2 separate regions of the Homo sapiens genome follow, and region 2 is linked to region 1. Evidence: fine-mapped expression QTL. Tissue or cell type: whole blood. Region 1 holds a variant in brackets; the other region holds the start of a gene. All regions are shown on one strand. Distances are from middle to middle.

Region 1 (2,766 bases):
TTAAGTATTCAGCATTTTTATTTTAAGTATTCAGCATTTTCCAGGAAATTACCATATTTCTTGCTGACTTATAAAGGTTTGCTGTATTTATATATGATTTTATTATGCCTTTGGACAACAGTTTTGGTTTTTTTTTTTTTTTGAAGAACACTTCTTGTTTTTCATAAATAGTAGGAATAGGATTTTATATGTAAGATTTAATTTTATAGGAAATTTGTTTAGAAGAAGCTGTAATCTCTATGTTGAGTGATACCTGTAATAACAATGAAATCCCATACCCTAATTTAAAGTTTTTGAGTATATATGGACACTAACTTCCAGAATGCTTGTTATATGTGAGGGCACAAAGTTATATAAGAATAAAAACATAAAACCAATGTTTGTTAGTCTTCTGGATTTTAATTTTTCACGTGTCTTATAATGAGGAATGTCTTTGTTTTGTATAGTTGTGCCACAGAATAATGAATTTAAAAGTCAGTAGGCTTATCAGGGTGTAAAAATGGATCTTTTAATTGGTATAAAATCTCTTTCTTCCCCATTTGAACAGTGAAGGAGAGCAGGGTCCAAATGGAAGTCAGAACTCTAGCTACAGCCAATCTTAAAACATTCCGAAGAATTCCATAGTGGACCACTTGGAAATAAACCATTGGACAGATTTCAGTAATGTCTTCAGTGGAACACAAATGAAAATGAATAGCTTGTTTCTGTCAAGCATATTGGAAAGTGATTTTATTTTTGCAAAATAAGTTTTTCTTTAATATGATTCTAGTACATAATTGATTAAAATCTCTTGATTATAAATGTTTGGAAAGGTTCTAAGGGGACCTACAGACAGACATACATAGACATTTCAAAATTAATAGCTTTTGATTAGTATAATATTTCTTAATTTGGATAATAAAAATTGTAGCTTTTTATTAAGCCAGGAAACATGAAGCATAATTTGTTTAAAATTCTCTTTGGTCATTGAGGGACCAAAAAAGGACGTAAAATTTACAGTCAATCTATGAGGGTTTTTTTCCCTCCATAAGTTTAACTTTAAAACTGTATTTAAGGAATCAAATCTTACAAAATCCTGGAAGATTTTGGTAATGATGTTGATAATTTCAGGGAAATTAATCAAGTACCTATATTGATTTAAAAGTGTATTTTATTCAGTAGTTTGAGGATCTTGCCATGGAAGATACTAGCCCAGCCTAGCAGAAAAGTGCAATATGTATAGCATACTTTGACATTTTAAACATGATAGTCCATAACCATTTTGAAATGCTGGGCAAACTACATGAAGTTATTTATAATTAATTCACAGCTAATCAGGCATTTTGAAAGCTTAATTGGATTCAAAAACCATAATGTTGGAATTTGGTAAAATTTTAATGTTGATTTTTACTGTGAAAAGGTTTTTATAAGATATACACACCCTAGTTTAATGTTGTGTCTTGGTGTGGATTTACAGATTTACTACAGGTATTCTGAACCAGGAACACAATCAGGTTTCAGGCCAGTTTGATACTGGCTGTCCTTAATTCTAATATGAGAGTAGGACATCATACTAAATGTTATGTCAGTGGGACTGTACT[G/A]TCTGTGGAACTTAGCAAATTAATCATTTTCTTCAGACTTGAAGGAGAGTGATAAATAAAATTTGGAGTCATAGGATATTGATGCACAATTTAAGGATTAAACATTTTTAATCAATTGTGGATGATGGCTTATTAAATGTTGACTTCCTAGTATAAAACTGCAAGAATAAAAGTAACTTCTCCAGCTGTATCGACTAGTGTCTTGAATTTATCTTTTTGAATTTGCCTGATGTTGTTTTTTGAGAATTCTTCTTCCTTTAGTTAAGTGTTAAAGCCTTTTATAGGTTGTCAAGGGGGTAATTTCAAATCATTACAAACAGATTTTAAATAGAAAATTTATTTCTGATGGAGCGTATCAAATGAGCTGGAAAGCGAGACTGTGTAAAGTCAGACTGATGACATATATAGGTTTCCTGGGCTTAATAAGAAAAAAAGCTCTCCTCAGGTCTGAAGGAATTAATGTTGGGCTTAGGTAAGACCTATAGTCTTTAAGTGTTTATTTTTAAAATTAATACCATGCCTCATAGTTTTGTTTTCAGTCTCTTATTGTGGAAGATTTAAAACAACATATACAGGAGTAAAGTAAGGAACCTCCATGTACCTATCATCTAGCTTCAGTAGTTATCAATTTATGGCCAATTTCATTTCATCTAAACTCCCACCCACTTTCCGTAAGTTGCCATCCCCCATCTTATTTTGAAGCAAATCCTAGATATCATATAATTTTATCCATAAATATTTCAGCATATATTCCTAAGAAATAATAGCTCTTTAAAAAAACTAAAAGTATTATTGTGCCTCAAAAAGAATTAGTAAAAATAATATCAGATTTTCAGTTATTTCACAAGTATAAAAATTGTTAGAGTTCTAGTCAGGATCTAAATAAGGATCACATATTACAATTTATTGACAAGTCTTTTGTCTTGTTATTATTTTATTTTCTTTTTTTTTTTTTAGATGGAGTCTCACTCTGTCGCCCAGGCAGGAGTGCAGTGGCGCAATCTTGTTCACTGCAACCTCTGCCTCCTGGGTTCGAGTGATTCTCCAGCCTCAGCCTCCAGAGTAGCTGTGTCTACAGGTGCATGCCACCACGCCTGGCTAATTTTTTGTATTTTTATTAGAGACAGGGCTTCGCCATGTTAGCCAGGCTGGTCAGGAACTCCTGACCTAAGTGATCTGTCCACTT
Region 2 (2,766 bases), 26 kb before region 1:
GTCTTGTAAAATTAAATTATGGCTTTTTTTGCAGTATGTTTCTATTAGGTGCATACATGTACATACATGTGCATACATATATGCATGAATATTTTTAGATGTTCTGCAAAACTGTTGATTCCGCTGCTCTGTAAGTTTGCACTTTATCACTCCAAAATAACTCCATTAAGATCGCGGCCGAGATCTCGCCACTGCACTCCAGCCTGGGCGACAGAGCGAGACTCCGTCTCAAAAAAAAAAAAAAAAAAGATCGCGGCCGGGCGCGGTTGCTCACGCCTGTAATCCCAGCACTTTGGGAGGCCGAGGTGGGCGGATCACGAGGTCAGGAAATGGAGACCATCCTGGCCAACATGGTGAAACCCTGTCTCTACTAAAAATACAAAAATTAGCTGGGCGTGGTGGTGTGAGCCTGTAGTCCCAGCTACTTGGGAGGCTGAGGCAGGAGAATCGCTTGAACCTGGGAGGCAGAGGTTGCAATGAGCCTAGATAGCGCCACTGCACTCCAACCTGGGCGACAGAGCAAGACTCCGTCTCAAAAAAAAAAAAAAAAAAAAACCGCCTGATCCAGGCCGGGCCTGGTAGCCCACGCCTGTTAATCCCAGCATTTTGGGAGGCTGAGGCTGACGGATCACCTGAGGTTAGGAGTTCCAGACCAGCCTAGCGAAATCCCCTCTCCACTAAAAATACAAAGATTAGATGGACGTGGTGGCACGCGCCTGTAATCCCTGTAATCCCAGCTACCTGGGAGGCTGAGGCAGCAGAATCATTTGAACTGGAAAGGCAGAGGTTGCTGTGAGCCGAGATTGTGCCACTGCATTCCATCCTGGGTGACAGACCCAGACTCCGTCTCAAAAGTAAAAAACAGGCAGGGTGCGGTGGCTTACGCCTGTAATCCCAGCACTTTGGGAGGTTGAGGAGGGCGGATCACGAGGTCAGGAGTTTGAGACTATCCTGGCCAACATGGTGAAACCCTATCTCTACTAAAAATACAAAAATTAGCTGGGCATGGTGGTGCGCGCCTGCAGTCCCAGCTACTCGGGAGGCTGAGGCAGGAGAATCGCTTGAACTCCTGGAGGCGGAGCTTGCAGTGAGCCGGGATCGTGCCACTGCACTCCAGCCTGGAGACAGAGCAAGACTCCGTCTCAAAATAAATAAATAAATAAAGTAAAAAAAAAAAAGGAACACTTGATCCCTGAGAACAAAGTCATCTTCATTTATTTCTCTTTCCAATCACAGGAAAAATAAGTCACAAAACCTTGTACTTTATTACAATGCCACATTGTTCTGTTTTTGAAGTCCTGGAAGAGGTAATAACAGAACCCCGTATCTGAGCCACTTCGCCTAGGTTAGACCCACTCAGCAACTCCCGTGCTGAAGACAGGAGACCGAGCGGCTTGGGCCCCCGGCCAGAATTCTCAAGACGCTCTCGCGAGAGCCTTCCAACCGCCGCGAGCTCTCGTGAACACTAGTTCTCTTCAATCTCAGCACCTCCAAGGGTCAGCACCTCCCCTCCGGCTCCCTCCGCTACCGCGGGCCGGAACTTTTGTCGATAGGAACGGGTTTGCACAGTTGAGTGTTGTCGGCCGGCGTGAAGGAGACTAGGGGGCCATCCTCTTCCTTTCGCCGTCGCCGCCGCGGAGCGGAGTCGAGCCGAGCTGATTTGATCGAGGAGCGCGGTTACCGGACGGGCTGGGTCTATGGTCGCTCCGCGGGCCGCTCCGCCGGCTGGTGCTTTTTTATCAGGGCAAGCTGTGTTCCATGGCAGGGAACTTTTGGCAGAGCTCCCACTAGTAAGCGATCTTCCGTCTTCTCACCTGGGGCCGGTTTTTGGGGGAGCTGTGAGGACGGGGCCTGTGACTCCCCTGGGCCTGGATCCCAGCTCAGTTCCGAGTGCCGGGGTCCTCACGGGAGACCGCAGCGGTCAGAATCAAGATGCGCTTTTCTGAGGCGACTCCCCTCCCCGCCCCCAGCCCCAGTTTCGGGGAGGGAAGGATCTGTGAGGGGGAGGGGTGGGAGAGAGTTTCGTCTCCCGGGAAGGAACGTTTCGGAGTTTAATTTCGGATTCTTGGTTTAGCTAGGCCGCGGGGGGTCGGATAGAGTGGGCACAGGTACGGGAAGTGTGACTCAGCTCAAGACTGTGAGGCTACCTGTTCAGGACAGTTGTGGCGTGCTTTTACCTGGGGTTTCTTCGGGTGATCGGCGTCGTGGTCTTTTGTCATTCACTGTATATCTTGAGTGGATTTAATATTATGAGGAGAGGAGAGAGTCTGGCTTGTTTCTGCCTACTAACCGCTTCTTGCGCGTACTTTATGTCTAGATGGAGTTTTATATTGATAAGGTATAGGGCAGGTGCCCTCTAAATTTATCCATTTCATTAGCCTGTGCTTTATATTTTGTTTTAAAGGCCTATTTTTCCAGTGACTTTGTTTACCTGTTTCTTTAACCTTTTTCATGAATAAGTTCTTGTTTCTGTCAGTGACCATGTGAGAGCTAGAATAATATTAAAAACATTTATCCCTAAATACATTTGTTTAAGCAGGCAGGAAGGTGCGTTATGGGGTAAATTGAACATTTGAGTAGGCTTTCCACTGTATAGTTGAAAGATGAACAGAATTTGACAAGGTATCTTGGTATAATTTTTTATGCTAAGAAAGCATTAGTAAGTAATTTAAATTTCGATTCTGTGAATAGGATCTGTTCCTGATGTTCATTTTTTAGCCCTTTGCAAAGAGAAAAAAAGAAACAATGAACTCAGTAACCTATTTA

Evidence for each region. PIP is the estimated chance that this variant, and not a neighbour inherited with it, causes the effect.
Region 2: CCNC starts here. The variant in region 1 is fine-mapped to the expression of CCNC in whole blood (INTERVAL, PIP 0.99).

Annotation. Positions count from the first base shown.
Region 1 is chr6:99,541,391-99,544,156 of GRCh38, reverse strand. It overlaps CCNC (cyclin C), which reads left to right. Exons shown (of 12, transcript NM_005190.4): 12 at 548-1,770. The coding sequence ends at 602. It also overlaps the pseudogene TSTD3. Among named protein-coding and RNA genes, the nearest start is that of CCNC, 26 kb to the left of the region's middle. The variant G/A (reference allele first, on the strand shown) is at 1,581.
Region 2 is chr6:99,567,520-99,570,285 of GRCh38, reverse strand. CCNC (cyclin C) reads left to right here and starts at 1,626. Exons shown (of 12, transcript NM_005190.4): 1 at 1,626-1,790. The coding sequence starts at 1,759. It also overlaps the pseudogene TSTD3. RefSeq lists enhancers at 1,269-1,318, 1,439-1,728, 1,849-1,928.